Homo sapiens: one gene and its partners. The protein of the gene in region 1 interacts with the protein of each later gene in a biochemical or structural test. Each region holds a gene or a part of one and is shown on either strand. Other genes may lie near its edges. The genes, in order: SHROOM3, GRIP2, PALS2, GOPC, ARHGEF11, DLG2 and DOCK4.

What was found.
Region 2: the proteins of SHROOM3 (region 1) and GRIP2 interact in a test that uses a peptide from one of them, tested with the Homo sapiens proteins (one large-scale study listed by IntAct).
Region 3: the proteins of SHROOM3 (region 1) and PALS2 interact in a test that uses a peptide from one of them, tested with the Homo sapiens proteins (one large-scale study listed by IntAct).
Region 4: the proteins of SHROOM3 (region 1) and GOPC interact in a test that uses a peptide from one of them, tested with the Homo sapiens proteins (one large-scale study listed by IntAct).
Region 5: the proteins of SHROOM3 (region 1) and ARHGEF11 interact in a test that uses a peptide from one of them, tested with the Homo sapiens proteins (one large-scale study listed by IntAct).
Region 6: the proteins of SHROOM3 (region 1) and DLG2 interact in a test that uses a peptide from one of them, tested with the Homo sapiens proteins (one large-scale study listed by IntAct).
Region 7: the proteins of SHROOM3 (region 1) and DOCK4 interact in a test that uses a peptide from one of them, tested with the Homo sapiens proteins (one large-scale study listed by IntAct).

Annotation. Positions count from the first base shown.
Region 1 is NC_000004.12:76,441,729-76,445,228, reverse strand, and holds part of SHROOM3 (protein Shroom3), read right to left. Parts: intron 1-3,500. UniProt on the Homo sapiens protein: Controls cell shape changes in the neuroepithelium during neural tube closure. Induces apical constriction in epithelial cells by promoting the apical accumulation of F-actin and myosin II, and probably by bundling stress fibers.
Region 2 is NC_000003.12:14,533,843-14,537,342, forward strand, and holds part of GRIP2 (glutamate receptor-interacting protein 2), read right to left. Parts: intron 1-3,500.
Region 3 is NC_000007.14:24,674,452-24,677,951, reverse strand, and holds part of PALS2 (protein PALS2), read right to left. Parts: intron 1-3,500.
Region 4 is NC_000006.12:117,564,512-117,568,011, forward strand, and holds part of GOPC (Golgi-associated PDZ and coiled-coil motif-containing protein), read right to left. Parts: intron 2,524-3,500; coding exon 2,343-2,523; intron 1-2,342.
Region 5 is NC_000001.11:157,035,743-157,039,242, reverse strand, and holds part of ARHGEF11 (rho guanine nucleotide exchange factor 11), read left to right. Parts: intron 1-3,500. UniProt on the Homo sapiens protein: May play a role in the regulation of RhoA GTPase by guanine nucleotide-binding alpha-12 (GNA12) and alpha-13 (GNA13). Acts as guanine nucleotide exchange factor (GEF) for RhoA GTPase and may act as GTPase-activating protein (GAP) for GNA12 and GNA13.
Region 6 is NC_000011.10:83,468,345-83,471,844, reverse strand, and holds part of DLG2 (disks large homolog 2), read left to right. Parts: intron 1-117; coding exon 118-219; intron 220-2,471; coding exon 2,472-2,644; intron 2,645-3,500. UniProt on the Homo sapiens protein: Required for perception of chronic pain through NMDA receptor signaling. Regulates surface expression of NMDA receptors in dorsal horn neurons of the spinal cord.
Region 7 is NC_000007.14:111,870,900-111,874,399, forward strand, and holds part of DOCK4 (dedicator of cytokinesis protein 4), read right to left. Parts: intron 1,666-3,500; coding exon 1,568-1,665; intron 1,454-1,567; coding exon 1,370-1,453; intron 1,192-1,369; coding exon 1,091-1,191; intron 1-1,090. UniProt on the Homo sapiens protein: Functions as a guanine nucleotide exchange factor (GEF) that promotes the exchange of GDP to GTP, converting inactive GDP-bound small GTPases into their active GTP-bound form. Involved in regulation of adherens junction between cells.

The DNA of each region.
Region 1 (3,500 bases):
CCAAGTATCATCTTTGGCATATGAGTTGCCTACCTATGCTGGATACCTACAAAGCACTATTGCATAGCTTATACTATGTTGGATACTTATAACAACTTCATTAGGTAAGAATGTTCCTTTTTTTTTTTTTTTTGAGACAATGTCTGGCTCTGTCACCTGGCTACAGTGCAGTAGCACAATCTTGGCTCACTGTAATCTCCACCTCCTGGGCTCAAGCGATCCTCCCACCTCAGCCTCCTGAGTAGCTGGGACCACAGGCATGCACCACCATGCCTGGCAAATTTTTGTATTTTTTGTAGAGACAGGGTTTTGCCATGTTGCCCAAGCTGGTTTTGAACTCCTGGACTCAAATGATCCACCTGACTCATCCTCCCAAAGTGCTAGGATTACAGGTGTGAGCCACCATGCCTGGTGCCTTTGAAAGATGAGAAAACTGGCCAGGCGTGGTGGCTCATGCCTGTAATCCCAGTACTTTGGGAGGCCGAAGCAGGCGGATCACGAAGTCAGGAGTTCAAGACCAGCCTGACCAATATGGTGAAACCCCATCTCTACTAAAAATACAAAAATTAGCCAGGCATGGGGCCCATGCCTGTAGTCCCAGCTACTTGGGAGGCTAAGGCAGGAGAATCGCTTGAACCCGGGAGGTGGAGGTTGCAGTGAGCCAAGATCATCGTGTCACTGCACTCCAGCCTGGGCGACAGAGCAAGACTCCGTCTCAAAAAAAAAAAAAAAAAAAAAAAAAAAGAAAGAAAGAGAGATGAGGAAACTGGAAACTGAGGTTCAAGAAGGCTGTTACTTGCCATGGTCACATAGCCAGTAAAAGCTAGGGTAGAAATAAAACTTGTTTATTCCCACTCAGAGCCCTATATTGTCTGGGATGTAAGCTTTTTTCTATGCTGGAAAACCTCACTTAAAATGAAAATATATATATACATATATACATATATATAACATAGAAATTACAAATATAAATTAATATACATGCACCAAAGAGCATTCAAAAATAAAGGTTTAGGCCAGGCGTGGTGGATCACTCCTGCAATCTCAGCACTTAGGGAGGTTGAGGTGGGCAGATCACTTGAGCTGAGGAGTTTGAGACCAGCCTGGGAAACATAGCAAAACCCCACCTCTACAAAAATTAGCCGGGTGTGGTGGTGTCCACCTTTAATCCCAGCTACTTGGGAGGCTGAGGTAAGAAGCTCACCCCAGGGAGGTCAAGGCTGCAATGAGCTGTGATCATGCCACTGCACTCTAGCCTAGGTGACAGAATGAAGTCTTGTCTCAAAATAAATAAATAATCTCATAAATCTCCAAGAAAAAAATACTGCTGAAAATGGAGAAGAAAACAAATAGATATTGAGGAATGAAAAAATGTAGTTGACATAAGTGCAAATTCAGGTTCAGATGCCCAGGACAGAGTGTTCTGTACATCGGTCTGCCAAATCAGGAAAGCTTCCTCTGAAGGCAGAAAAGAATCACTTCCATTCTACAAACCAAGATCCACAGCGTACCCATGTAGCCTTTGTGGAGAAAGTCATTAGAAGAGGGGGAGAAACAGTGCTTAGATTTAGTAGAGAATCTTTGCCTCATTTTGTTTCATTGAGAAGTGCCTGGGATGTCAGAGCACAAGAGATGGATGGACTCCTGGGATGAACCAAGTGGGAGAACAAGGACTCTGCACTGCAGCCCTTTGGATAAGATGTTCACTGTTTGGAACTACATCAAAGGGAGAGATGTGGAAGAGTCTGTCTATGGATTAGTTAAGATCCAGCATGTCCTTTGAGGTTTTGTTTTTTCAAAAATTGATAGAAAGTCTCTCATTATGCCTCTCCAATCACACTGTGGGCTCACTAAAATGAGATGAATATTTCTTAAAATAAATTGTGTCCCCTGCATAGAAGGCAAAGCCTTGGGAATCTATTAGCTGTGAAAGAAAGCAGAGTTCTTACTGATGCTAAGACCCATTTGGTACAGCATGTCAGCATGCTACTTGAATAAAAGTTATTTCCAACAACATTGATAGGAAATATCAAAATTAATTTGTACTAAAAAATGCGTAAGACTTTAACTAAAATAATAGTTAATTTTTAAAGGTTTAAAAGTTAAAGAAAAACATGAGTTTCCCTTTTTTCTCAATCTAATTCAATTCAACAGACATTTACCAAACATTACATATGTGCATATGAAAGACATGGTCAGACTGAGCCCAACTTAACCTGCTTGCCTTAGTTTTTAAACAGGTTTTTCTAGTAACCTGTGTGCACACTGGCCTAGGTAGCTTCTAACAAAGATTTTTAAGAATATCCTCTCTAATACTTATCTTCCTCTTTATTCATTCACATTTTCATTTTCATAATTGTTACGTATAGTTTAAGCACCACGAATAATAAAAAGAAAAGGAGGAAGGAAAGAAGGGAAGGGGAGAGAGAGAGAGAAAAGGAATCAATGAAGGGTCTTTAGCTTCTGGAAGGTAACAGTCTAACAGGGGAGCTAGGATTCATAGAAAAGTATAAAGGGTGGGGCCGGGCACGGTGACTCACGCCTGTAATCCCAGCACTTTGGGAGGCCGAGGTGGGCGGATCATAAGGTAAGGAGATCGAGACCATCCTGGCTAACACGGTGAAACCCTATCTCTACTAAAAATACAAAAAATTAGCCGTGCGTGGTGGCGGACGCCTATAGTCCCTGCTACTCAGGAGGCTGAGGCAGGAGAATGGCGTGAACCCGGGAGGTGGAGCTTACAGTGACCCGAGATCGCACCACTGCACTCCAGCCTGGGCGACAGAGCAAGACTCTGTCTCCAAAAAAAAAAAAAAAAAAAAAACTATAAAGGGCACAATCAGAGAAAGCAATTACTTCCTTACTAGCTGGGGCTTTACATACACACAGATACACACATACTCTCAATTTGCTAAGACTGAAACCATCTTGGCAACTTTTTTTGCATCTCAGTTTTCTCTCTGTGTACGAAGAAAGTTATTACATGATTGCTAATTTTCCTATAGCTGTACAATCCTGTAAGTCATTTAACATTTATTAAGCATTTGCTATGTGTAAATGAGAAAGATTTTGCTAAGAGAAGAAATATATACAGCATGAGTAAAACCCATCTGGCCTTAACGAGTACAATTTATTGGCAGGACGCCAAATGCAAACAACTACCTTTATAGGACCTTTATATACCTGTATAATAAAAAGCCACTGGGAAGCCGAGTGGGGTGGCTCACGCCTGTAATCTCGGAATTTTGGGAGGCCGAGGTAGGTACATCACTCGAGGTTGGGAGCTTGAGACCAGCCTCACCAACATAGAGAAACCCCGTCTCTACTAAAAATACAAAATTAACTGGGTGTGGTGGCGCATGCCTGTAATCCCAGCTACTTGGGAGGCTGAGGCAGGAGAATCGCTTGAACCCAGGAGGCAGAGGTTGCAGTGAGCCGAGATCGTGCCATTGCACTCCAGCCTGGGCAACAAGAGCGAAACTCTATCTCAAAAACAAAAA
Region 2 (3,500 bases), on another chromosome or scaffold:
GGGGTTCAGCCTGTGAGCCATCTCTTTTCCCAGCTGTCAGAGACTTGACTGCGTGCTGCAAAACAAGTCATACTACTGTGCGCAAAGAGTCAGTGGGCAGCAGGCGAGGCCTCGAGAGACTTCCCTAGGCATCTCAGGGTGTGCCCTTGGTGGCCTCTTGTGGAAGTCAAGAAGCCATTCTTGATAGGCGAGTTGCCAGATGAGAGGCTTCTGAGCACCCAAGACCCCCTGGCATAGTCAGAAAGGTGCCCGGAAGGAATGCTGCAGTGTTTGCTGATGCCTATTCAGAGGGGACATAGGGCCTCTCTTTCACGAACATCCTCAGATGGGGGGGAACTGAGGCAGCATCCAAACCAAGAATCAAAATAGGGTTAGAATTACAATTGGCTGTGTGACTCGAGCCTCCATTTTCCCCTCTGTAAAATGGGGGTGTCTCTCCCATGGCTGACTCCAGCTGGCCAGAGCTTGAGAAGTTGAGGGGATTACTTTATTTATAGAAAACCCCTTGGGGGGGTCAGACCCTAGGCCCCCTCCTCAGAGAACATGCTTGCTCTCTCCCACTCTCTCTTTTTTGTTCCAGGACCTGGTAATTATATGCTTAGAGATGAAGGCTTTTCAAAAACATCTTTCCCACCAATTTTCAGCTGGAAACGTGCATAAAAAACAGAGATATTTTTATCCATGTTTTTTTTTTTCCCTGTCTCCTCCTTCCAGCAACGGGCAATTATGAGCTTTTGCCTTCAGTCAATCGTCCTGTAGGAACTCGCTTCAGAGGAAAATTCATTTCCGCAGTGGTGCCAGCCAGTCCCGGCGAATGTGGGGTGTGCAAGTCAGGGGAGGAGGGACAGAGGGAGAAACGTGCTTGGAGCTCAGACCTGTGCACCTGGTACTCAGGCCCACGCTGCAGCCGGGGTGGGTGGCCTTCTTTTTTATTTTATTTCTCTTGAAATCATGGCTAATTTGCCTTCATTATCTCCCGCTCTCTGGGGCCTCAGGGGGCTATTGAGCTTTGACAAAGGGAAAAGGAAGTCAACTCCTTGCCAGGCTGCCTTCGCCAGGGTCCTGCCTAAGCGGGTGGCTGGAAAGAAGCGTGGGGGAGTGGGTGGGACTATAAAGTCAGCCGGCTTTGACTGCTGCCCTGTTCTGTGAGCCTCCTGGAGGGAGGACTCAGCATCTCAAAAGGGACCACTGAGAAAACAAATGCCCAGAGGCTCCACTTGGGGCGAACAGGACATGATTTGCAGGGACGGTGAGCTGTCGGCCAGGACCATGCCAGCTCACCGGGACCCTGGGTGCTGAAGAGGACATGGGCGCTAAGTACTCCACCAAGTGACGGTCCAGCCCCAGCCAGCTTCGCCCCACCATGGAAGGGATTGTTGATATGGTGGGAAGGGAGGGATAGGCTTTGGAGTCAGTCCAACTTGGGACTTTGATTCTAAATCGGCTGCCAACTGGCTAAGGGATCTGGGACAAGTCACTTCTCTCTGAGCCTCAGACTTCTCCTCTGCAAAATGGGGGTACTGGTGCCCACCTCATGGGTTGCTGGGAGGAACTGTGGGGAAGTGTGCACAGAAACCATAAAACATGGCAGTTCCCTCCCTGCCTGCTTCCCTCACCTTGTTGAAAGGTTTTCCTAGATCAATCATGATGATGGCTCCTAGTGATTAAGTGCTGGTTTCTGTGCTTCCTAAGCACGATCTCATTTAATCCTCACCACTTTTGAGGCGGTATAATCATGATTCTCATTTTACAGATGAGGAAACTGAGGCACAGAGAGGTTAAGTGATATCCCATGATAAAGGGCAGGGCCAGGGTTTGAACCCAGGCCTAATGAGGCACAGAGAGGTCAAGGGAACTGCCCAGGGGCACAGAGCTTCTAAGTGGCAGAGCCAGGATTGAAGCCCAGGCCTTCTGGCTCCCTAAGGGGTCTGGCCCTACCCTCTGGGTACCTTCCTGCCTACTCCCCCATCCATGCAAGCCTGGAAGTTGCTGTAATGCCTGCAGCCCCGGGGCTGTTCGGCTCCAGGCAGAGCCCCAGCTCCTTTGGGCGTTCCTCCCTGGCCACTGAGGGCTGGAACAGGCCAAGGGCTCGATGGAGATGCCTCAAAGCCAGTTACAGGCTGACCTCTGAATGACAGTTCCAATCCCCACGGGCGACAAGCCTCCCAGGAAGCCCAGCTTCCATGGGGAGAGCAGCATAGAAAGATCAGATAAGCTCGGCAGAAGCACGTTTTTCAGGGAGACAAAAAGAAATGCATCAATACATTTAAAAATTTGAAGCCTCATTCATTTGTTGCCAAGGATTGCAAAGAAAAAAATAAAGAACCTTAATAAGTAGCACCCAGTGTTGGGCCCTTCCCTGGGCCAGGCCTGCTCTAAGCACTTTATGAATGCTAAGTCAGTTAATTGTCCTAAGAACCATGGAGGGAGGCTCACCGATTGTCCCCAGTTTACAGATAGGGAGCCTGAGGCCCAGAGAAGCCACTGAGCTGGTGAGCTGCAGAGGCACCTGGAACCCAGGGCTCCCTGACCTCACAACAGACCATGCCCTGAACCCTTGGCTCTGCTCTTTCCCTCCAAACAGGAGGGCAACAGACCCCAAATGAGAAGCATCAGGGCACTGGGAAGGTGACAGCTCCAGTATCCCAAGAATACCTAAGTTAGGGCTCAGGCACTCACAGGCTGGGTGCATCAGGGCTAGCAGGACCCATGGCATCACCTGGAGAGGCCGCCACCCCCACAATCCTCCTCCACACAGGGAGAGGGGCTCCTGTCCAGCAGGCCTGAGCCACACGCAGGCCAACATCCCACCATGGGAGAGCGGGGGCGCAGTCTCAAGTTGGGGGTTGGCCTTCTGCGTTCTGGGTCCTGCTCTCCTGCCCTACTCTAAAACCAGCAATGTCAAGGAACGTGACCTCAAAATCAGGGTCACCCACAGAACCATTCAGTTTCCCAATGGCGGCTGCCTGCAGTCACAAGAAGACTGTGTCTAGCTCAGGGAGAGTAGAAGCAGAAGTCCTCACCACAACTGTCAGTCCCCGGTCCCCTGACTTCACCTCCTGATGCTCGCCCTGGCCAGCTCCACTCCAGCACACTGCATTTTCTCACTTAATCCTCATAACCACACTGCCACTTGGGCACTGTTATTCTCCCCATTTTACAGCTGGGAAAACTGAGGCATGGAGATGCTAAGTGACTTGTTCCTGGTTACACAGCCAGAAGTGACAAAGCGGAGATTTGACCCTATGGGCCCACCCCACCTTGGCAACTGCACTCTAAAGGGAGGTGAAGCCTTCCTGGACACATCTGTCCTTTCGACCCAAGGCCCACCAGACTCACATCCCCCTAGGGCCTTTGCATCGGCTGTTCCCTCTGCCCACAAAACTCTTCCCCAGACATCATCAAAACTCCCGTCTCAGCTCCTTCGGGAACTTGTAGAAATGTCACCTCCTCAGGGAGGCCTTCCCCATCCGCCTGTTGGAACTTACACACGCACCCTG
Region 3 (3,500 bases), on another chromosome or scaffold:
AAGACATAGAAAACTTTTATAAGAACAAAATGAACTTCAAACTCATGCTCAAAAATAAGGGTCAAATGAGATCATTATGTATAATAGGACTCCTGTTTTCCCCTTGTTTTCTGGCTCAACCTTGAGAGTGGTCGTCTTAGACTACTGTGAAGAGTATTTATAAAGTATCTTTGAGAATCTTCAAGATGCTATGATGGCTTTTCATATTTAAAACTGTGTGATCTTTAAGGTTTCTGGAATTAGTCACCAAAGGTGTGTATAATAAAACTTCTCAATAAATGTAATCCAGCATATAAACAGAACCAAAGACAAAAACCACATGATTATCTCAATAGATGCAGAAAAGGCCTTTGACAAAATTCAACAGCCCTTCATGCTAAAAACTCTCAATAAATTAGGTATTGATGGGACGTATCTCAAAATAATAAGAGCTATCTATGACAAACCCACAGCCAATATCATACTGAATGGGCAAAAACTGGAAGCATTCCCTTTGAAAACTGGCACAAGACAGGGATGCCCTCTCTCACCACTCCTATTCAACATAGTGTTGGAAGTTCTGGCCAGGGCAATTAGGCAAGAGAAGGAAATAAAGGGTATTCAATTAGGAAAAGAGGAAGTCAAATTGTCCCTGTTTGCAGATGACGTGATTGTATATCTAGAAAACCCCATTGTCTCAGCCCAAAATCTCCTTAAGCTGATAAGCAACTTCAGCAAAGTCTCAGGATACAAAATCAATGCATAAAAATCACAAGCATTCTTATACACCAACAACAGACAGAGAGCCAAATCATGAGTGAACTCCCATTCACAATTGCTTCAAAGGAATAAAATACCTAGGAATCCAACTTACAAGGGATGTGAAGGACCTCTTCAAGGAGAACTACAAACCACTGCTCAACGAAATAAAAGAGGATACAAACAAATGCAAGAACATTCCATGCTCATGGGTAGGAAGAATCAATATCGTGAAAATGGCCATACTGCCCAAGGTAATTTACAGACTCAATGCCATCCCCATCAAGCTACCAATGCCTTTCTTCACAGAATTCGAAAAAACTACTTTAAAGTTCATATGGAACCAAAAGAGAGCCTGCATCACCAAGTCAATCCTAAGCCAAAAGAACAAAGCTGGAGGCATCACACTACCTGACTTCAAACTATACTACAAGGCTACAGTAACCAAAACAGCATGGGACTGGTACCAAAACAGAGATACAGATCAATGGAACAGAACAGAGCCCTCAGAAATAACGCCGCGTATCTACAACTATCTGATCTTTGACAAACCTGAGAAAAACAAGCAATGGGGAAAGGATTCCCTATTTAATAAATGGTGCTGGGACCACTGGCTAGCCATACATAGAAAGCTGAAACTGGATCCCTTCCTTACACCTTATACAAAAATCAATTCAAGATGGATTAAAGACTTAAACGTTAGACCTAAAACCATAAAAACCCTAGAAGAAAACCTAGGCGTTACCATTCAGGACACAGGCATGGGCAAGCACTTCATGTCTAAAACACCAAAAGCAATGGCAACAAAAGACAAAATTGACAAATGGGATCTAATTAAACTAAAGAGCTTCTGCACAGGAAAAGAAACTACCATCAGAGTGAACAGGCAACCTACAAAATGGGAGAAAATTTTCCCAACCTACTCATCTGACAAAGGGCTAATATCCAGAATCTACAATGAACTCAAACAAATTTACAAGAAAAAAACAAACAACCCCATCAAAAAGTGGGCGAAGGACATGGACAGACACTTATGCAGCCAAAAAACACATGAAAAAATGCTCACCATCACTGGCCATCAGAGAAATGCAAATCAAAACCACAATGAGATACCATCTCACACCAGTTAGAATGGCAATCATTAAAAAGTCAGGAAACAACAGGTGCTGGAGAGGATGTGGAGAAATAGGAACACTTTTACACTGTTGGTGGGACTGTAAACTAGTTCAACCATTCTGGAAGTCAGTGTGGCGATTCCTCAAGGATCTAGAACTAGAAATACCATTTGACCCAGCCATCCCATTACTGGGTATATACCCAAAGGACTATAAATCATGCTACTATAAAGACACATGCACACGTATGTTTATTGCGGCATTATTCATAATAGCAAAGACTTGGAACCAATCCAAATGTCCAACAATGATAGACTGGATTAAGAAAATGTGGCACATATACACCATGGAATACTATGCAGCCATAAAAAATGATGAGTTCATGTCCTTTGTAGGGACATGGATGAAATTGGAAATCATCATTCTCAGTAAACTATCGCAAGAACAAAAAACCAAACACCGCATATTCTCACTCATAGGTGGGAACTGAACAATGAGAACACATGGACACAGGAAGGGGAACATCACACTCTGGGGACTGTTGTGGGGTGGGGGGAGGGGGGAGGGATAGCACTGGGAGATATACCTAATGCTAGATGACGAGTTAATGGGTGCAGCACACCACCATGGCACATGTATACATATGTAACTAACCTGCACATTGTGCACATGTACCCTAAAACTTAAAAGTATAATAATAAGAGGGGAAAAAAAAAAACCTTAAAAAAATAAAAAAATAAAAAAACTTCTAAGGCAACTTGTAACTCCCCAAATAAATGCATAATAGGACTTGGTTCAACATTGTGAACATTAATTTTAAAAATTAATGTTTTTTCGGTGAAGTCCTACAGTGAAACCATATAGGGGAATGCGCTGCTTGAAATAAATATGTATATGCACATGTATTACCTCTACCTCCATGCTGAGGGAATCTTAATTCTTAGAGAAATGTTCTTTAGTTTACAAGTGAATTTTAACTACAATCCTATTCTCTACTAACACTTCAAAAAACAATCTACGTTGCCACATATTTAAACTGCTTTCCATTTCTAGAACAGAGAAATTAGAACATGAAGGTTTGACTACAACTGATTCCTTAGACTTCTATACTGCGCAACTACATAATGTGATTTTTTAGAAGTAATTTTTTATGATAGGCAAAATTCTCAATTTTAGCTGCTCTTCAAATAATGAAGACACAATCAACAAAGTAATACTTCATTTGTTAACTAAGCTCAAGATGTCAAGATGTCAATGTTAAATTGAAAACAGGATGCATAACATAGCCCATCTCCCTAAAATAACAATGTTTTTCTATTTTATCTTAGGATCATTTTGTAATATATAAAGAAAGTTAAATCACCTTAATTTTATAACAGAAAATTTTAGAAATTCAAAAATATATGGAAAATAAGCAATATACTCCCAAATAACCAATGGATCAAACAAGCAATCACAAGTGAAAGAAAATACTTTGAGAGGAGATGGTGCTGTTGAAGAGCACAGTTACAGACAGAGCTGACCAGGCTCTTCCAGAGTGCCAGTTGTCCAGCAGCATGTTCATTACCCTGAAGATGTATGATGGTTGAACTAAACCCATTCATTCTAAGAAAAGGTTCTGTGGAGGGCTTTAAGCCCTTGATAATT
Region 4 (3,500 bases), on another chromosome or scaffold:
ATAAATAAATAAGTGTTGACTATATCACCTATTTAGGTGATATATATATCTATAAAGTATAGACGTGTGAAACAATAACCAATAGATACATTTTTTTAAGTGAGTCAGTTAAAAGATATATACACACAAATTTTTAGTTGAGTCACATTTTAAGTGTCTGCAATTTGCATATGTGACAGAGAAGACTTCTAGCCTCAGTTACAAAAAAAAGGAAGAGACAGGCTTTCTAATCCCGACAGAAAACAGCAAGTGTGAAATACAATGAAACCATATGGAGAGCAGCCCAACAATTAAGGTTTTGACATACTGCCACAATAGTTTTGCTCAAGATGCACAGTGAAAACAGTAACTGCTACTGCTATCTTTGTGCAGACAGTTTACAACACACAAGTTTATCAAAAGTGCAACAGTTTATCAGTTCACCATAAAACTCCATGCCAGGAGTTCAACATTTTGGTCTCAGGAGGCCTTTATACTAAGCATTGAGGACTCCAAGAAGCTTCTGTTTATGTGGATTATAGCTACTGATGTTTCCCATATTAGTAGGTAAAATTGAAAAATCTAAAAAAAAATTCATTTCTTTGTTAAAAATGACAATAAATCCAGAAGGTTAATATAAATAACATTTGTCTAATGACAAATAACTCTATGTTCCAAACAAAAAAATTCTAGTTAGAAGAGTAGCATTATTTTACAATTTTACAAATCTCTTCAATGGCTTTGTAGATGATAGCTGTATTTTCATATATCTGCTTCCATTCAATCTATTACAAGTATATGAAGAAAGTTCAGCCTCACACAGATATGTAGTTGCTAAATGGAAGAGTATTTTAACAGCCTTTTCAGATAACTGTCAGTATTGTTCTCTGATATTATACAAAAATTTGACAATGTGGAATTTGAAACCTTATCAGTGAACTTTTCACACTCTGTTATATTAAAATCCATTTGCCTATCTTGCATTTTGAATGGATCTTTTCCCATGCAAAATTTTATAACTTCATTTACTGGTGATTTGAAAAATATTGGACCATGAAGTTATGTAGCAATTCCAAAAGTTGACACATTTCACTTTACTGTATCAAAAAATCACATTCATTAATATCATCATCAATCTCATCAGAAAAGCTTAAGTGTTAGGAAGCTGTCAAGCTCATGGTGATCAACGTATGTTTTACAAAGTTCTAACTTTCACTTGAGAGCTCACATTTTATCACTGGCAATAAATATTATCAGTTGTCTTTCCTGAAGTGATGGACTTTGTTCATTTTTAAGAAAATGGCTTCCAAATAGTCCGAAAATCCATACTTTGTTAGTCATTCATTCAAGTAAAAATTGTCTTCCATGAAGAAAAATGGCTAGTTCAGTCACTTATGTACTTTCCCTTGAAACCAGCATCTTTGTTCAGTGTGCAGAGTAAGTGCTTTATGCATACTTCCCATCTCATCACAAAGAATATTAAAAAGACAGGTACTCAAAGGTCAATATTTAAAAATTAACTGTTACTGCCATTTCATCAAAGATATTTTTAAGCAAAATTGGTATCTTCTTCTTTTACTATGAATGGATGGCAAGGAAGAAAACAATGATTACTAGTACAGTTACTAGTATTAGCAACACTGCCTTGATTAGTGCTAAGGCACCAGCAGTTTTACCCCAATTGCTTTTGCATCAACCAGATACCATCAGTGCAAATATCAACATAGCAAAAAAAGACAAATGATGTCTTAGTATTATTATGAAAAGCTTTGACCTCATGAACTCTGCTAAAATATCTCAGAGACCCTCAGAGATCCACAGATCACAATTTGAGGACCACTGCTCTATGTAAAAGGAAGTGCTAGAGTTTTTCCTTAAAATATGTCTAAATGATAGCAAAGGAACTAAACCAAACATCCCCAAGATAATATAAGTTGATTCTAATAGCAATCATAAGGTGACAGTATACTTCATACTTATTCATAATTAGCTTAAAATTCATTGTGAGAGATGAATTTGCATCAAGACAGACAGACAATGTAGTCTACAAGATAGATCTACTCAAAATAGTATATTGGTCTTTGTTTCAGAGTCTAGAAAAAATTTTATTTATTTTTCAAGGATCACTTGCAGTAGAGTAACTGGTAATGTACTTGTCTTAACAGTCCAAGATGAATATAGAAGAACATATATGGTAAATAAACTGTTAGCATAGTATACAATAAAACAATAAACAAGGGAAAGCTCTTCATTCCTTTGATTTCCTCACAAAACAGTTTTACTGAAGAAATTCTGAGGCCTTCACATTTTAAACATTTAATAATAATGAATATGTTAATAATAATTTTTAGAGTGATTTTTACCTTGTAATACTTTGATTTCCCCACTTGTGTCTTTGCAACTAGCACCAGGGTTACCACCTCCTTCTAACTCATCAAGGTACAAACGGTAACGATGTCCACTCTCATCTTCATACTCTACGTTTTCATCATCAGAATCCACTTCAGGAGCCACATAAACTACTTCAAATTCAATCTCTCCTCTCTAAAACAGGAAATGAAAATGAGAAAGTCAAGTTATTGTAATTGTAATTTAAAAAGGATTTCCAAATTCTTTGTGGGAAGGCTTAGGGGTAGAGAGATCTAAGAGATAGCTGATTTCCAGAAAATAAATAATAAAATTCTAGAATCTAAAGAGGTAGTGAGGCCATCATGTCTGATCAGCCTCGTGAATCCTCTCTACAGTTCCTTTAAACATTATAGTAGCTCTTTCTACTGACCATAGTCTTTTTGCTAATAGATCTAAAATTTAAGAGGATGCTTAATTATTAAATTTATAGAATTTTGGAACAAGTATTCAGTTTTAAAGTTATTTGCTACTTTGTACTGCACACAGCAATTCAGCAAATACATCTAAATAGTCAGATATTAAATAAGGATATCATACAAACCTTTCCTTAACTAATTCAAGAAACCCCTAGAAAATGATTTTTGTACACTGCCATAAGGACATCATATAAATCTTTTCTTAACTAATTCAAGAAACTCCTACAAAATGATTTTTTGTTTCTTATTCAATAGGTCTTGAGTAAGAACTTACACTGAGTACCAGACACAGACATAGTGTTAATCAAGGTATTCTGTCTCGTACTAATAGTAATTACTATATTTATATATTTACTATAAATTATAGCCTTCAATCCCCAGAATAATCCTATTATAGTCTCTTTTACATGAACGAGAAAGCTGAGTGAGTCCTGCAGAAAGCAGATAACTTTCCCTACATAATGAACAAGAATAAAGAAAAACAAAAGTTTGACTCTGAAGTCCTTAATCTTTATATTATGCTAGACTAACTGTGTAATATTTGTACTGTCATTCTTTAACAATGAAACATTCAAGTAAAAAGTTACAGATCATGCCAGGCACAGTGGCTTACACCTGTAATCCCAGCACTTTGGGAGGCTGAGGCAGGTGGATCGCTTGAGCTCAGGAATTCTAGACCAGCCTGGGCAACATGGC
Region 5 (3,500 bases), on another chromosome or scaffold:
TGTCCTTTCAGTGGGCCAAATGGTTTTTCAGAAATCATTGTCTGGCTTTCCTGAAAATCAGTGAAAATGAAAGCTTGAAAAGAACAGAGAACAAAGCTGCCTGATCAAATGGGAGAGAAGATGGAAGTACAGGGACATGGAAACATGGGGAGGAACTGAGAAATCCATGGCCCCTAATAGAATTGGAATAGGATTTGGAAGGTGGTTTTGTTTTTTGTTTTTTGGGACAGGGTCTCACTCTGTCGCCCAGGCTGGAGTGCAGTGGCATGATCATGGCTCACTGCAGCCTTGACCTCCCCAGGCTCAGGTGGTCCTCCCACTTCAGCCTCCTGAGTAGCTGGCATTACAGGCATGTGCCACCACACCTGGCTAATTTTTGTAGATATGAGGTTCACCATGTTGCCCAGAGTGGTCTCAAACTCCTGAACTCAAGCAATCTGCCCACCTCGGCCTCCCAAAGTCCCAGGATTATGGGTGCAAGCCACCACGCCAGGCCTGGAAGGTGTTCTTAAGGTCTGGAAGAATACCCCAATTTATTGTACTAAAACAATTGGACAGATTTCAGGAAAAAATCACAAAAATCTGGCAGGACTTCAAGGGATCCTCTTGCCCTTTACTCTGGACTCCAAATAGGGTGTCTCTTAACCTAGTAAAGACAGGTTGAAGGCCTCTCCCATTTTCAGTGATCTCTGGAGGATGGTTCCATTAGTTCAACAATTAGAAATCCCTTTGGATACGAAACTTCCTCTGCCACAATTTAAAACCATTTTATTGTCTTTCTATTGTGATTTCAGCGTAGGCCTTAAAGTCACTAGTATCCCTCTATTACCATTGTTGACTTCCTTAAGATTTTCCTCCTCATTTTAAAGAATAGCAAACTAAGACATGAATATGTGAGAAAGGGGCTTTGAAAAGTTAGAGTGAAGTAATTTCAGAGTCTTGCTTTCCAGACCCTGCTCCTTTCCAGTATTTGGGAGCAGCCACTACAAAGTGGTGTGATGGGATCTGTAGTCATCAGTCACAGCCTGGCCTCAAATCATGTAGGGAACCAATCTAGCAGCCCTCCTGGTGATGACCTGTGATCTGTGGCGCTTGACGGTTGGTTGGACTTGAAATATTTATCAGATGGCTCAGTGCAGTTCTCAGTGTTCTGAGAGATAGTACAGGAGAACATAGAGCTTACATTCTTTTTTTTTTTTTTTTTTTTTTTTTTGAGACAGTCTTGCTCTGTCACCCAGGCTGGAGTGCAGTGGCGTGATCTCGGCTCACTGCAACCTCCACCTCCTGGGTTCAAGCGATTCTCTGCCTCAGCCTCCCAAGTAGTTGGGATTACAGACACCTGCCACCACACCCGGTATACTTTTTGTATTTTTAGTAGAGACGGGGGTTTCACCATGTTGGCCAGACTGGTCTCGAACTCCTGACCTCAAGTAAACCGCCCACTTCAGCCTCCCAAAGTGCTGGGATTACAGGCATGAGCCACCGTGCATGGCCTCAAGCCTAAATGCTTGTTGGGAAATGTTATTAACAAAGCAACACAAAATAAAAAGATGGTACATAATTGCTGAATCGTTATGTACACCAAAAGGTACATTTAGAGAAGAGTGCAAGGTTGGTGCTAATAAGAATAGTCAAAGGCAGAGTAGTTAGGAATTATTCAGGTCGAAGAAAGAGAAGAGGCCATTTCAGACTAGAGGAGCAACACGAGCAAGGTTCTGTCTGGGGTGGCACCAACATGGTGTGGTCTCCAAGTGTTAAGATTATTGTAGAGCAGAGAGAAATTAGATTGATAAGATGGGTAGGGTAGGGAGAATGAAGGGATTCAGACTTTATGTGGTAGTAGAAAGGGAGCCGGGGAAGGTTTATGTATTATATGGTGATAAACATAGTGTTTAAAGAGAGAATTCTGATATTAATATATAGAGCAGAAGAGAGCTTGGGGTTAGGAAGCCTAGGAGTTTTTGTAGCAATCTTAGGAAAAGATAACGAGCTTCTGAATCAGAACGGTTATGGTGGGGACAAAGAGGAGTGGCAGGATTCCCAAGACGTTTTGGTAGCAGAATTAACCAGTATTTTAAGACTGAATCAAATTTATTTATTTATTTATTTATTTTGAGACAGAGTTTTGCTCTTGTTACGCAGGCTACAGTGCCATGGCACGATCTTGGCTCACTGCAACCCCTGCCTCCCAGGTTCAAGCAATTCTCATGCCTCAGCCTCCTGAGTAGCTGGGATTACAGGTGCCTGATCCCATGCCTGGCTAAGTTTTTATATTTTTTAGTAGAGACGGGGTTTCACCATGTTGGCCTGGCTAGTCTCAAACTCCTGATCTCAGGTGATCCGCCCGCCTCCACCTCCCACAGTGCTGGGATTACAGGTGTAAGCCACCGTGCACTGCCCTGAATCAAATTTTATTCCCAAATTTATGAGACTGGTGGACTAGGAGAAGGGTAGTGCTATTGATAGACTAGGATCTTCAGTAGAAGTCATTTTGTCTGCCATTGATACCTAGCAATTTACTGAATACAGTGGATACTTAACCTTCCTTAGACCCTTAGGTTAGGCCATTTCTACCAAATAGTTTTAGAGCTCTTCAATACAGCTTTTTAAGAGAAGCAGGAGGCTGGGCGTGGTGGCTCACGCCTGTAATCCCAGCACTTTGGGAGGCCGAGGTGGGTGGATTACCTGAGGTGAGGCGTTTGAGACCAGCCTGGCCAACATGGTGAAACCCCGTCTCTACTAAAGATACAAAAATTAGCCTGATGTGTTGGTGCACGCCTGTAGTCCCAGCTACTTGGGAGGCTGAAGCAGGAGAATCACTTGAACCCGGGAGACAGAGGTTGCAGGGAGCTGAGATCGCACCCCTGCACTCCAGCCTGGGTGACAGAGCAAGACTCTGCCTCAAAAAAACAAACAAAAAACAAACAAAAAAAAGTGAGTAGTCAGTTCTGGGAGATCCCTTAGGAAGTTGGGTCATGGTTTGAGGAGATTAGCATGTATTTGATGGATCCTGATTAATCAGCCATATATATATATGTATATATATTCATATATGTATTCATATATGTATTCATATATATATTCATATATGTATTCATATATTCATATATATATTTTCATATATATATTCATATATATTCATATATGTATTTTCATATATATATTCATATAGATTCATATATATATTCCTATATAGATTCATATATATATTCCTATATATAGATTCATATATATATTCCTATATATAGATTCATATATATATATTCCTATATATAGATTCATATATATATATTCCTATATATAGATTCATATATATATATTCCTATATATAGATTCATATATATATATTCCTATATATATTCCTATATATATTCCTATATATATTCCTAAATATATACATATATATATTCCATATATATATTCCTATATATATATTCCTGTATATATATTCCTATATATATATATTCCTGTATATATATATATTCCCACATAGCCACCCA
Region 6 (3,500 bases), on another chromosome or scaffold:
AAGTAATGCCCTTAGCATCTCTTACTGTCTGGCAATTAAGAATCACCCTTGCAGGACAGTTTTGCAGTTGTTTCCAACTCTTTCTCTTTACCTACATCTTCCTTTCCCATTCTGCAGTAAACTACACCCGGCCGGTGATTATCCTGGGGCCCATGAAGGATCGGATCAATGACGACTTGATATCTGAATTCCCTGATAAATTTGGCTCCTGTGTGCCTCGTAAGTGTCATTTTTCTTTCCTCTAGGAAAAACAAAAAGAGCTTGGATTTCTTTATGAGATGGTAAAATGTAATTCCATCCTCCAGTAGTCTCTCCAGTAATTCAAATACCAACCATTTCCGATTAGCTGAGTGCCTTATTTAATTTATTTGCCTAACACTTTTCATTTATGCTGCCGTGTGTCATTCTGTATTTAATAAAAATAATAATGTTTTCTCTAAACTGATTGTAGCCCCTTAAAAGGCAGGATGAATTTTTGTGGCCCCCAACCATTTAAAACAGCATAGGATTTATGATAGGCATCAGTATGTTTTCATAGATTGATCAAAATGCCACTGAAACATTATTTTTTATAGGATGGAAGAGATCGGAAACAAAGCCATATATTAAAATCCTCTCAGGATGACTTAGGGCCATATGTCAATCCCAAAACCCAATAGGCTTTCCCATGTTGACAGTCCCAGGTTTAGGGAGGGTGAAGACAAGAAAATGTGTAACACTTCAATTTGACCTCTAGGCCATTACAGACTTTAAACTACTTTCTTCTCATTATAGATTATCATCAGGCTTCTGGTCCCTCTGATTGTAGCCTTATTAGATTCTAACTGCTCTGCCTCTTCCCCTCCCCACCCCTACCATACTTTCTCCACTCATTCACCCCGTCTACACCCCGACTCTGTCAAACAGAAATGCATGCAGACCTTCTACGTATGTAGACAGGTCCATCAGGAAATTTTAATTTATTAGATAATGGAGCTCTTACATCTGATACCAACAAATATTTCTCTTCCATTCTATGTGTTTTAAGCCTGATGCTTTCAAGTGTCTCTAACATTCCAGTACTGCAAATTTTACATGAGATACTTAAGAATAGCAGGAATTGTATGTGTCCAGTACATGGCCAAAAGACTAGGATGATTGCTGTATCTCATGAAACAATTCCCAGCAAGGGCTCTGGGAAGAGATCCTGCCATAGAACATATCCTGAGAAAGTCTTCAGACAGGAAGGAGCAAATGAAACTCCAGGTCGTTTACAGCAAGCTTCCAGCTTGCTCCTCCACTTTTGAGAGAAAGAAAACAGAAGGTACTTAAGCATTCTTTCTGCTTTCCCTTTCACCTTGCATATTCTCTCTTTTTTGAATTAATAGAACCATTTTGTGATAGTCAATAGATGTTCATTGTACAAAACTTCAAAAACACTAAAAAGAAAGTTAAACGAGAAAATTAGAAGTATACAAAATCCCACACAATACCCAGAGATAACATCATTGTTAATATTTTTGTACATTTCCATCTATTCTTTCTATGCATGCATTTTTTCTCTGTGATGATTTTTTTGCTTATTTAAAATTTTATATAACTATTTCAAATGATTATTATATCCCAATTAATCATTCTTTATGAACATTTTGGTTTTTCCCTATTTTTCACTATTATGAATTGTGACAAAAATATCATCGTAATTGTGTTATAATTATTACTTATAAAATAATATAATGAATATCTTTAAGGATAAATCTGTATCTGAAGTTTTGATCATTTTTAAAAACATATTTCTAGGAAAAAATAAGTGAGTCAAAGATTAAAAATATTTTAACAGCTTTTATTCATATTGCTAGATTGCTTTCCCCTTCTCTTCTTACCAAAAAATTTAGGTGAAATGGTTAGAGTTGCTGATTTTTAGTCCTATCTAACTGTGATTATCTTATTTTATATATGTTGAGAGTCTGAATTTTATGGTCCTTTATAGAATGTTAAGTTTTTGTTCTGACAGGTGATAATTTACTGACACAGCAGCTTCTTCCATTTGTGACATGGTTTTAGACTTTGTGAAGATGGGTGTAGAGTAAGTCTAGAGTAACCTTTTAAAATGTGGCCTTTCTGGGATCTCCATGGGTTCTGACTCAACTCCCGTGTCTTCTAGCACCATGTGATGTCTAAACTCTCCATTTGGAAATGGCCTCTAGGTAGAGAGGTGGGGTGAATGCTCTCTCATATGTTTCTCTTTTCTCAAAGATTACAGCCCTGTACTTCCTGTTGTCTGATATCTGAAAACAGTTGTTTCATATATTTTGTCCAGTTTTTTAGTTGCTTATGGTGGGAGGGTAAGACTAGTACCTGTTACTATGTCATATTTCTTCATACTACATATTTCTACATATCAATGTTGAGGATGTGGTGGAGAATATAGGTGTAAAGCAAGTTTATGGGTATAAATGCACCTTAATTTTATCATTTTTTGTTTTATAAAGATACTACGAGGCCAAAGCGAGACTACGAGGTGGATGGCAGAGACTATCACTTTGTCATTTCCAGAGAACAAATGGAGAAAGATATCCAAGAGCACAAGTTTATAGAAGCCGGCCAGTACAATGACAATTTATATGGAACCAGTGTGCAGTCTGTGAGATTTGTAGCAGAAAGAGTATGTTCACCAATCTTCTTACACCTCCCCTGAAGAAGGTTTCTAGGTTGCAAACTGCATTTTTTTTTTTTTTTGGTCATTACTCTTTCTTGATTGCAATTGTAAATTTTGATTTAATAATTTAAAACATCCAAGCAGAGAATCACCTTAGAGCAATGTCATTAATCTTTGTTCTAATTTCAATAAAGTATTCTCACTGACTTGGAAAAAGTAGGAAGAGGGCTTTGTCTTTGACTCACTATCTGAGGCCCCAATACACAACCTTGATTTTATTAAGGCAGGTTTACTACTTTAGTTGTAAACCAAGGGGATAGCATTCCTGAATTATTTTGTTAGAGGAAGTTATTTTTTTTCTCTCTCTCTGAAAACTTGACATCCTCATGGTAGAAGAGAAGATAGATGAGAAGGGCTGCCCAGCCTTTTGCTCGCAGAAGTTCTAGCTTAGAGGAGGTGTAGATGCTGCTATTATCTTTTTGCTGGTAACTTCAGGGGCATGGAAAAGAGAAGAATGTTCAAGAGAGGGTACCATAGGAAGGCACCTGGGTGTGGCTACACAATCTGCCTACAGAGGGATCCTATTTCCTGTGAACACAGAGAACCAGTATCATAGGAGAAGATATTTGTTGGGTTGATTTGATTTGCCATGACCTTTCTCAATGTACCGCTAAAGAATTAAGTAATTTTGATGTCTATCTAAGAATACACTAAGAAGTTGCATCTATTTTCCTCCCTCTCAAAAGTTCAGTTCTATCAACTAAATGAATACTGGTTCTAGTCAAACTGTCCTGGATAATTGCACCTATTTTCCTCTTTGTTCATGTTGTTAACTTGAAATGTTCTGACTGGTGAATAATCA
Region 7 (3,500 bases), on another chromosome or scaffold:
GGCCCAAATTGTTAGGCTGAGTGGGCCGATGTTTCAAAACTATTCCTGCGGTTGCATTTCACTCTCAGCAAAAAATCACACTGATGAAGTGTCAAGTCTAACAAAAATACCTTCATTCATTTCGATGTTGGAGACGTCGATCTTAACCTGTCATGGCTGGGAATATCCAAGTAAACAGGATCAAATGCTTATCTGATAACCTATTAACCTTTATATATTACATAGATGGGGGAAGGATATCAACCTGATTTCATGCTTTTTAAACTCACCTCAGGGAACAGTCAGGCATGTGCATGCCCACAGGTGCTTAAGGTATAAGGTAGAAATATGGGAGAACAGCAAGGACCATATTGGACTGGGAGACAGACGATGGGGTACACTCCAAGGCTATTTAAGCAGTTATTTGTCGAACTAAAAGAGAGAAGCTGTGGCCTCTGGCAATTATCAACTATGTTGAGAGGAGGCAGGCACTAGCCAAAGCATAATATTATTCATAACTTTTCAGCACCACCTGAGCCAGTAGAAAAGGAGGAGCAGTTAAAATAGCAGCTCCTATCAAAGAGTAGATCCCAATGACTAAATTGCCTGAGGCCAGGGACCAGGTCTTCACATCATCAGCATAAAGTACAGTGCCTGGCAAGCAGCTGGCACTCAGTAAATCCTAACATAAATGAATGGATGACTTTCAGCAGGTGTGAAGGAAAAGGTTGTTTTCCATTCATATTTCTTTCTTATGAACATTTATAATCATCAGGGAGTACAGTGATGAAGTGGGACTCTTAACAGCCGAAGTGAGATAACCAGACATTTTAGACCAAAGAATATCCAGTGAAACAGAGACAAGAAGGAAAGACTTTATATTTTAGGGCTCAGGAATAGAATTCAGGAGGTTTTTTTCCCTTTTTAATCAAAATAAGTTCTACCCATTTAAAAAGGGTGTGTTAGCAGGGAAGAGACTATCTCAAGAGACACTTCAGTAGTGCTCCATTTCTTCCTACACTCCCTTTTAAATTTTCCTATATCGCCTCTTCTGCTGAGAAAAGCTTGAAAGGAACCACTTCTAAACTAATTACAAGATACAGGGCCTTACCTGTATGCAAGTGCCCCAGCAAAATGACTCTCAATGTAAGTGTCCATTACAGGTTTAAAATGATGAAATTTGCTATCTTGCAGCAAATTTATTATGTGAACCTAAAAAAAGAAAATTGAGCTTTATAAAACTAAATGCAAATCAAGGTTTTCCTTTTTTTTTTGCTTCTTTTTAAAATGAACTCTTACATTATTAAGCACATGTTTCTGAACCAGCCTCATGAAAGTCAAGATTGAGAGACAAAACAGTTAAAATACAATTAAGGGAATTTGAACTTACCAAAGAATCAAACACTTTAGACCCATATTTTTGGGAATTTTCATCTAAAATTCCAAATAAGGTATCCAGTGTATCCTGCAGAAACTGTTAGATAAAGAAGTAGCAAATGAGTAAATAAGATACTATCTGTCTTTTTCCTCCAAATGTTCTTTATTCTATGAATCTCTGCAAGGAAAATAGTAATGAAATACTATATACCTTTACTATCTCTGAGCCATCAATTTCTTTTAATTTAGAGAGACAGCCAGTGATCTTGTCTGGGTGGGTTCTCCATTTCAAAAGATCAAGCATATCACCTTTCAAAATAGAAAAGGAAGATTAATTGCCTTAATAGAGAACAGGTCCTCACATGAAAGCGTTCTGCTAGTAAAAGTAAAATTCTTAACACATGTGGCTCCCCTCTCCTAGCCACTCAAGTTGCAGGCTCCCACAAACTATGACTAGCCCTCTCTAGGATGGCATTTATTTCACTGTATTCTGTTTCCTCTCCACTGCTCTTGACTTACAAACTCCTACCCATCCTTTAGTCCTCAGATCGGATGTTGCTTCATTTTGGAAGCCTTTCCTGAAATCTCGAGCTAACTGTCCCTTCTACATGCTTCCACATCACAGTAGCACTTACAAATCCTTACAAATCAGGCAGGTGACAAATATTTGTTGATTAATTTTTCTGCCTCCTCCTGGAAAGATGAGAGTTTCTTGAGGGCTGGGAACCTGCTTTATTCCCGTTTGGGTGCCCAGCACATAGCACTCTGCCTAGCAACCAACTCCACCCAGGAACAAAGGTCTTCTTGGCAATGTGACCCAAATCTTGCAGACTAAAAGAATGGTAACAGGCCCAGTGATTTCTTAGATCATCCAGGGAGCTCTCAACCTGAGAAGAGCAGCTCCTGGACTCCACAGGCCATCTTTCATCCCAGAGTCCAGATAAGCACAGGGCCCAGCTCTTTAACCCTTTCCTAAACAGACATGAGGGCTTTGGTCCAGCAGGTCCTTAGAGAACCTCTTCACCTGGGGAGGGAATAAATTTATCTTTCTTGGGCAGAAGTTACAAAGGCTGTGGGAGATGGTCTCCATGCATTATTAGTCTCCAACGCATGCAGGGAGAGGTGGCATCTGGAGGCCAATGAATGCAGTGAGAACTGAAGGCTCGCGTGTGCCGAGCACGCGCAGGGCAGCGGGACCTGGTAGAACTGGCCTCAGGGCTCAGTGGAGTTGCCAGACTAGACTGGCCGAGAGAGGAGCCAGGACAGAATTTCCAGGCAGGGAAGCAGGAAATTTACTTCAAATCACTTGTTTTAGCAGAAACCCAAAAGGGACTTTCTGAGAAACAGAAAGATGATGAGGGAACAAAAACTCCAAACCCCCCAAACCAAGGAAGTAGGTAAGATGAGAAAGAAAAAGAGAATATAGAGAACACCAGTGAGAAAAAGCATTAAGAATCTCAAGGAGAAAGAGAAGCAAGCTCCACCAAAGCCAGATTCAAGAGAAAAACCTCACAAAGGATTTACTATTAATAGTAAGGAATTCAGTACCAAACAGGAATGTTTATCTGCAACAAACACGGGTAAGAGGAGGAGGAGGAATTAGAATGAGAAAAATAAAGTGATTTTAAAAATACTGACTTTGAAAAAGAGATTTATGATGTTTTCATAACCAAAAACCCTGAAAATGTTGACTATTCAGATGTAATTCAGACATCCTGGGGTATGACTGAAACCTTTTAAAACTGATTGGTTATATTTGGCATATCAGATATTTCCACAGAGTGAGACTCAGGGCGACAAAGGCAAAGCTCTATTGTTCTCCCCAGTTTGCTGCTTCCCTCCTACCTACTTCCTACTTCCTGCATCTCACTTCAGGAGGCCTCCCCTCCCTGGCATCTTCTCTTTCATAATCCCTCGTGCATTTCCCCTGCCATTCACTCCTCACTTCCCACTCCACCCCCATCCCAGCTCTCACTCCTCCTTTGTGTTCTCTTTCCCTTCCTTTAAAGTGAGGCAGTTGCAGGGGCCATCAGGACCCTGCTCAATGTGAGGAGTGTGGGGAGGAAGGAGGTGGCTATGCTGGCTACCAAGTGGCAGCAGTGGAGAATGAGGACTAGGGCCCATTTAAGTAGGGCTGGAAAACA